Linked DNA regions of Homo sapiens. The protein of the gene in region 1 interacts with the protein of each later gene in a pairwise test. Each region holds a gene or a part of one and is shown on either strand. Other genes may lie near its edges.

The links.
Region 2: the proteins of CA12 (region 1) and ATP5F1C interact in a two-hybrid assay, tested with the Homo sapiens proteins (one large-scale study listed by BioGRID and IntAct).

What each region holds. Positions count from the first base shown.
Region 1 is NC_000015.10:63,322,729-63,326,552, reverse strand, and holds part of CA12 (carbonic anhydrase 12 isoform 1 precursor), read left to right. Parts: intron 1-195; coding exon 196-268; 3' UTR 269-3,824. UniProt on the Homo sapiens protein: Reversible hydration of carbon dioxide.
Region 2 is NC_000010.11:7,801,677-7,805,500, forward strand, and holds part of ATP5F1C (ATP synthase F(1) complex subunit gamma, mitochondrial isoform L (liver) precursor), read left to right. Parts: intron 1-593; coding exon 594-749; intron 750-1,081; coding exon 1,082-1,178; intron 1,179-3,824.

The DNA.
Region 1 (3,824 bases):
GGAAAACGAACAAGTTCTGTTTTTGTTAAAGCTTTATTTGGTGACACTCCCTCCCAAGACCAACAGAATTGGGGAAAGGTCCCAAAGAGAGGAATCCAACTTTTAAAAACGGCCTCATTCCATACCTGAGTCAGGCTGCTCTCTGGCTCGCTCGCTCTCCTCTCTAACAAGAGTTATGTGTTCTTTCTGTTCTAGTATCAAAAAAGGTGATAACAAGGGAGTCATTTACAAGCCAGCCACCAAGATGGAGACTGAGGCCCACGCTTGAGGTCCCCGGAGCTCCCGGGCACATCCAGGAAGGACCTTGCTTTGGACCCTACACACTTCGGCTCTCTGGACACTTGCGACACCTCAAGGTGTTCTCTGTAGCTCAATCTGCAAACATGCCAGGCCTCAGGGATCCTCTGCTGGGTGCCTCCTTGCCTTGGGACCATGGCCACCCCAGAGCCATCCGATCGATGGATGGGATGCACTCTCAGACCAAGCAGCAGGAATTCAAAGCTGCTTGCTGTAACTGTGTGAGATTGTGAAGTGGTCTGAATTCTGGAATCACAAACCAAGCCATGCTGGTGGGCCATTAATGGTTGGAAAACACTTTCATCCGGGGCTTTGCCAGAGCGTGCTTTCAAGTGTCCTGGAAATTCTGCTGCTTCTCCAAGCTTTCAGACAAGAATGTGCACTCTCTGCTTAGGTTTTGCTTGGGAAACTCAACTTCTTTCCTCTGGAGACGGGGCATCTCCCTCTGATTTCCTTCTGCTATGACAAAACCTTTAATCTGCACCTTACAACTCGGGGACAAATGGGGACAGGAAGGATCAAGTTGTAGAGAGAAAAAGAAAACAAGAGATATACATTGTGATATATTAGGGACACTTTCACAGTCCTGTCCTCTGGATCACAGACACTGCACAGACCTTAGGGAATGGCAGGTTCAAGTTCCACTTCTTGGTGGGGATGAGAAGGGAGAGAGAGCTAGAGGGACAAAGAGAATGAGAAGACATGGATGATCTGGGAGAGTCTCACTTTGGAATCAGAATTGGAATCACATTCTGTTTATCAAGCCATAATGTAAGGACAGAATAATACAATATTAAGTCCAAATCCAACCTCCTGTCAGTGGAGCAGTTATGTTTTATACTCTACAGATTTTACAAATAATGAGGCTGTTCCTTGAAAATGTGTTGTTGCTGTGTCCTGGAGGAGACATGAGTTCCGAGATGACCCAATCTGCCTTTGAATCTGGAGGAAATAGGCAGAAACAAAATGACTGTAGAACTTATTCTCTGTAGGCCAAATTTCATTTCAGCCACTTCTGCAGGATCCCTACTGCCAACCTGGAATGGAGACTTTTATCTACTTCTCTCTCTCTGAAGATGTCAAATCGTGGTTTAGATCAAATATATTTCAAGCTATAAAAGCAGGAGGTTATCTGTGCAGGGGGCTGGCATCATGTATTTAGGGGCAAGTAATAATGGAATGCTACTAAGATACTCCATATTCTTCCCCGAATCACACAGACAGTTTCTGACAGGCGCAACTCCTCCATTTTCCTCCCGCAGGTGAGAACCCTGTGGAGATGAGTCAGTGCCATGACTGAGAAGGAACCGACCCCTAGTTGAGAGCACCTTGCAGTTCCCCGAGAACTTTCTGATTCACAGTCTCATTTTGACAGCATGAAATGTCCTCTTGAAGCATAGCTTTTTAAATATCTTTTTCCTTCTACTCCTCCCTCTGACTCTAAGAATTCTCTCTTCTGGAATCGCTTGAACCCAGGAGGCGGAGGTTGCAGTAAGCCAAGGTCATGCCACTGCACTCTAGCCTGGGTGACAGAGCGAGACTCCATCTCAAAAAAAAAAAAAAAAAAATTATTCTGTACCATCACAACTTTTCACAACGATGGCAAGCCTTATGTCTTGGGAGCCTGTTTTGCTAGGCAAAGTTACAAGTGACCTAATGGGAGCTCAAATGTGTGTGTGTCTCTCTGTGTGTTTGTGTGTGTGTGTGCACTCAAGACCTCTAACAGCCTCGAAGCCTGGGGTGGCATCCCGGCCTTGCCATTAGCATGCCTCATGCATCATCAGATGACAAGGACAACCCTCATGACGAAGCAACATGAATTAGGGGGCCTCTTGGCCTTGGTCCAAAATTGTCAATCAGAAATGAACATAAAGGACTCCAGAGCAGTGGGACTGTCTGTCAAAAGACTCTGTATATCTTTTGTGGATGAGTTTTGTGAGAGAACAGAGAGACCATTGTACCTGGCACAAGGGCTGTTCATGAAAAGGGAGACTTACTGGGAGGTGCAAGACAGTGGCATTTCTCCTCTCCTCTTGCTGCTCAGCACAGCCCTGGATTGCAGCCCCGAGGCTGAGACCAGACAAAGCCCGGGAGGCAGAAAGATGCTCCAAGAACCAACACTATCAATGTCTTTGCAAATCCTCACAGGATTCCTGTGGGTCCAGCTTTGGAACTGGGAAACCTTTCTTCGGATCCGCACTCATTCCACTGATGCCAGCTGCCCCTGAAGGATGCCAGTACTGTGGTGTGTGAGTCTCAGCAGCCGCCCACACGCTCCTAACTCTGCTGCATGGCAGATGCCTAGGTGGAAATAGCAAAAACAAGGCCCAGGCTGGGGCCAGGGCCAGAGGGGAAGGCCCTGGATTCTCACTCATGTGAGATCTTGAATCTCTTTCTTTGTTCTGTTTGTTTAGTTAGTATCATCTGGTAAAATAGTTAAAAAACAACAAAAAACTCTGTATCTGTTTCTAGCATGTGCTGCATTGACTCTATTAATCACATTTCAAATTCACCCTACATTCCTCTCCTCTTCACTAGCCTCTCTGAAGGTGTCCTGGCCAGCCCTGGAGAAGCACTGGTGTCTGCAGCACCCCTCAGTTCCTGTGCCTCAGCCCACAGGCCACTGTGATAATGGTCTGTTTAGCACTTCTGTATTTATTGTAAGAATGATTATAATGAAGATACACACTGTAACTACAAGAAATTATAAATGTTTTTCACATCAGGCTGTTCTTTTTTTTTTTTTGGAGGCGAGGTTAAAGCATTACTATTTGCAAAGCACTCTGTAGCTCCCTGTTATGGGGATAGGTAACTAATCAGAATAATAATGTCACTCGCATCCACTTCTTAGAACCTGGCTCCAAAGGAAAATAAGCTGATAGACTCAATCACTTTCCTGAGGATGGAGGCCTATGGCATGTGTGGCTGCAGGTCGCGAAGCTGCTTAATGGTGCTGGGAAGCCTAGAGGAATTAAATAAAGACCCTGGAGGAGGTGGGATCGGAGCTGCACCTTGAACAAATAGCTCAGATTTGAACAGATGGATGGAAAAGAGGGAGGTGTTCCCAACCAAGGGGACATGATACAGGGAACAGGTCCTATGTCTCTTTACTCCTGAGAGTATTAAACCTAGTAGGTGGGCAGCCCCTCTTGGTTGCCTGTTACCTTATTTTGAATTCTTTTTGCAAAACATACTATCACCCGTCCAAATAATCTTTTGTCTAAATCCAGACTTCACATTCTGACTGGGGCAAAAAGAGGCAGTCCAGTAAAGGTTATAAAATAGGTACCATCATTGTTTGCCTTATTTAGAAAAGCATCCAATTTTCACTATAATCACCCTAAGCCTGAGAGAGGTGAACTGTTCAAGGGTACTTTGGCTCCAGTGGGTGACAGTACCTGGCCCAGCTTTGGAATTGAAACATTTCTGATGGTCTGTACTCTGCTAGAACACAGGATGCTTCTGCTCTCCCTGCTCTGGCATCCTGCCAGGTGTCATGGCCACGCACAGGCATGAAGACAGCCGGG
Region 2 (3,824 bases), on another chromosome or scaffold:
CCTATACACATAGCCTGAAGGCAATTTTATGCAATATTTTAAAGAATTTTCTGCATGAAACAAAGTTTCAAATGCACCCCATCACACAAGGTCAGGTGTGGAATTTTCCACTTGTGGCATCACGTCAGTGCTCAAAATGTTTCAGATTTTGGAGCACTTCAGATTTTGGACTTTGGGATTAGGGATGCTCAACCTGTATTACACTAAATTCGTTTCAATTCATTATTATTCTTTTTTACTGGAAAAAGCATTGAGTGCTTGCTGGCTTTGTAACAGGCACATGCTAATGCTGTCCAGAGGGCTTCATAACCACGAGATATAGTGCAGTTATTTCAAATGTTGACCTAATTTTTCTAAAGTTACACATGTGGAGTAGAATATCAAATGGTTTATTTACACATTATATTTTGCTAAAAATATGCTATCATCTGTAGTGTGGAAATAGATGACATTATTAGAACAGATTCATTTACCTTATCTAGCATTAATTTCTGCTCTGTAATTATAAAGGAGTTTTACACTGAAAAGCTGTTTTTGATGAATTACTATTCCTTCCATATAACTTGAAAGAAACTCATCACTTGTTTTAACAGACAGCATGAGTATCTATGACGATATTGATGCTGACGTGCTGCAAAATTACCAAGAATACAATCTGGCCAACATCATCTACTACTCTCTGAAGGAGTCCACCACTAGTGAGCAGAGTGCCAGGATGACAGCCATGGACAATGCCAGCAAGAATGCTTGTAAGTACACAGTATGGACAGTGCCAGCAGGAGTGCTTGTGAGCACACAGTGAATCTCAGCTGAGAGGAGTCCGTGGCCGAGAGTAGCATCAACAACATTAACATGATATTCCTGTACCTGTAAGAAAGTATATCTTGATAGGTAGTTGATTTGCAAGTACTGTGAAAAGGTATCCTATGGAAGATGTAAAAATATCTTCATAACATTATTTGAGAGGCCAATTTTGGTATCCAAAAATTTCTTACTTTTAAATTAAGCAACAGAAGTTAGTTAACAAGTTATTCTACTCTAGTTTCAGATTTTTTATGTAGTGTTTTTGTTTTGTTTGTAGCTGAGATGATTGACAAATTGACATTGACATTCAACCGTACCCGCCAAGCTGTCATCACAAAAGAGTTGATTGAAATTATCTCTGGTGCTGCAGCTCTGTGAGTAATTGTAGATTGTCGCCTTCAGAGAATTTTTTTTCCTCTTGCTGTGTCTGCTTGTTTGGATGCTTAAAAGTTTTTCGTTTTTTTCTTTTGAAGTTGAAACTCATTGCTGAAACTTGCATCCTAACTCTTAGGCTATAAAGATGTGGTAAAAATGGGACCTCTTTGCTTTATTTTTATTGTTTCAGCTGGAAACACTCGGGCTTAGTTTTCGGTTTTCTAAAGGATTAGGAATGGGATGTGGATAATTCAGTATCATTTATGAAATCTTTTTTTGGAATTTAAACAATTGTAAGCCAAGCTTTCTGAGTTACAGGGCTAGTTTCAGATTTGGTTTTACATAAATCTATAAACCATTGCATGTTGGGAAGGTCCAGGAATTTTTTAATCATTATGTTTTTTAATCATTATGTTTTCTATATCAGTACCAAAAGATAGTATAGCCATCCCTCAGTATCTGCAGTGGATTGGTTCCAGTACTCACTCTCACCTCCCCCAGGATACCAAAATCTGAAGATCCTCAAGTCCCTGAAATAAAATAGCACAGTACTACATATAAAAAATGCACATCCTCTCGTATACTTTTAATCATCTCTAGTTATAATGCTATGTAAATTGTTGTTGTATTGGTTTTTGTTTTTATTATTTTATCATTATTTTTGTCTTTTTTCCAAATATTTTACATCGGCTGTTGGTTGAATCCATGGATACTGAGGGCCAACTATATACTGCTTTCCTCAAGAAAATTTCTTAGTTGTTGAAAAACTTTAATGTTTATGAAAAAAAGGTTAAGATAATGGGAATTTTATTCAAAAAGTTATTAAGTTGAATACCCACTATGTGCACAGTACAGTGCTAGACACAGTGTTAAGGATGTGATTCTCTCTTTTAAGGCACTTATATTCTAATAGGATAAGAAACATACAAGTAATTGTGATTAGATAAAACGTGTAGTAAGTTCTTTTTGACTCGTTCCTTCTTACCTCCTGCTAATCAGTTACCATGCTCTTTAAGTTTTACCTTCTAACTATCTCTTGAATCTTCCCCCTTCTTTATGCCCACTTAATGCAGATCCTTGTCATTTCTCTCCTGGGTTCAAAAAGGTAATTATTTGAGTGCCCCTTAAGTGTCAGGCCCTGTGCTAGACACTGAGGATACAGTGGTAACAGTATTTGCCTTCAGAGAGCTCAGTCTTCACAGTAAAGGCAGACACTAAATAAGAAGTCACAGCAGAACAGAGGTTGCTAAACTGTGGCCTGGAGCTAAGAATGGGTTCTGCATTTTTAAAGGGATATAAGAAAAAGGAGAGTGATAGCGTGTGACCCACAGAGTGCAGAATACTTGCTGTGTGGCCCTTCACCGAAAAAATTTGCCTATTCTTGTGACAGTGTTATGAGGAAAATAACAAAATCCATTCTCTGTTATACACTCATTCTGCAGAAACACTCGATGTATGTGATCCTATATTTTCTGGTCACCAGCACTCTTCCCAGTCCAGTCTCTTACCATTACCATTTCTCACGTCCTTGAACCTCAGCCACCTTGATCTACTTCCAGATCTACAGATTCGTCACTCTTTCTCGCGGCCAGGGAGTGGCATGTGCTGCAGCCTGAAAAGCCACTATTTCTTCCCTTGCTCCCTTGATTCTTCATCTGACTGCCTCCTGTGTATCCTTCCTTACTCAGCTGGGGGAATCCTTTCTTCCAGAAAACACTCCTTCCTTCAGTCTGAGTGAGGCAGCCTTCTGCAGCATCCTGTCTTCCATTTAGCTTAGCTCTTACAGCCTTGTATGAGGAATTGGCTTTTTATTTGTCTGTGTGCTCCTCGAGGCTAGGATGGGACCATATCTTATTCACTTTTGTGTCCCCATTGCCTGGTACATACCTCCTTCGTGAATGTTGAATGAATGAATGAAATGCCATATGTATTCAGAACTGGAAGTTCAGAAGAGGGACAAATAACATTTTATTGGGTGTATGAAAATGTGGGTCCATGGTTTTAAGAGTCAGGGAAAAGTTCATCACTATTTAAAGTGTTCCTTAAGTGTTACTTTTCAAGGGCAGAAACTGGGCAGAATGCCAGAGAGACACAACTAGAACTTTTTGAGCCAACAGAGACCTTTGTGTAAGTTGTTAGTTGGATCCATCAGCCTCGCTATCCTAAGCATTCTTCTCTTATTTTACTTTCTAAGCACAGCTGTGTTAGGACTAACCCATTCACAGCCTGGTCACCAATGTTCTATCAGCATCACAGAATACTGTCTCATGGTGTCTAGCTTGATGAACTTGGTTAGGATACTCTCTCTGTTACTCAGCTTTGTCATCTGTAACATGGGGACTAATACAAGGACTAAAACCTTCTATTAGCCATTATCCTTCTTGCCATCTACCCCATGTTAAAGCCAGGCTGATTTGTTCTTGGATCTTAAGTGTGACAAAGCCTGCGGGAAGGAACCACATTCTGAAGGTTTGTGGGCTGTGTGAGATCCAGAGAACCCAAGGGGGTTTTTTTGCTCTTGACAAACGAATGTTAGGTATGACCTATGATGATACAACTTCTGCAAAATTGAGGACCAGCCTATTTCTTCATTAGAAATGCAGGAAACCTGGCCGGGCGCAGGGGCTGACGCCTGTAATCTCAGC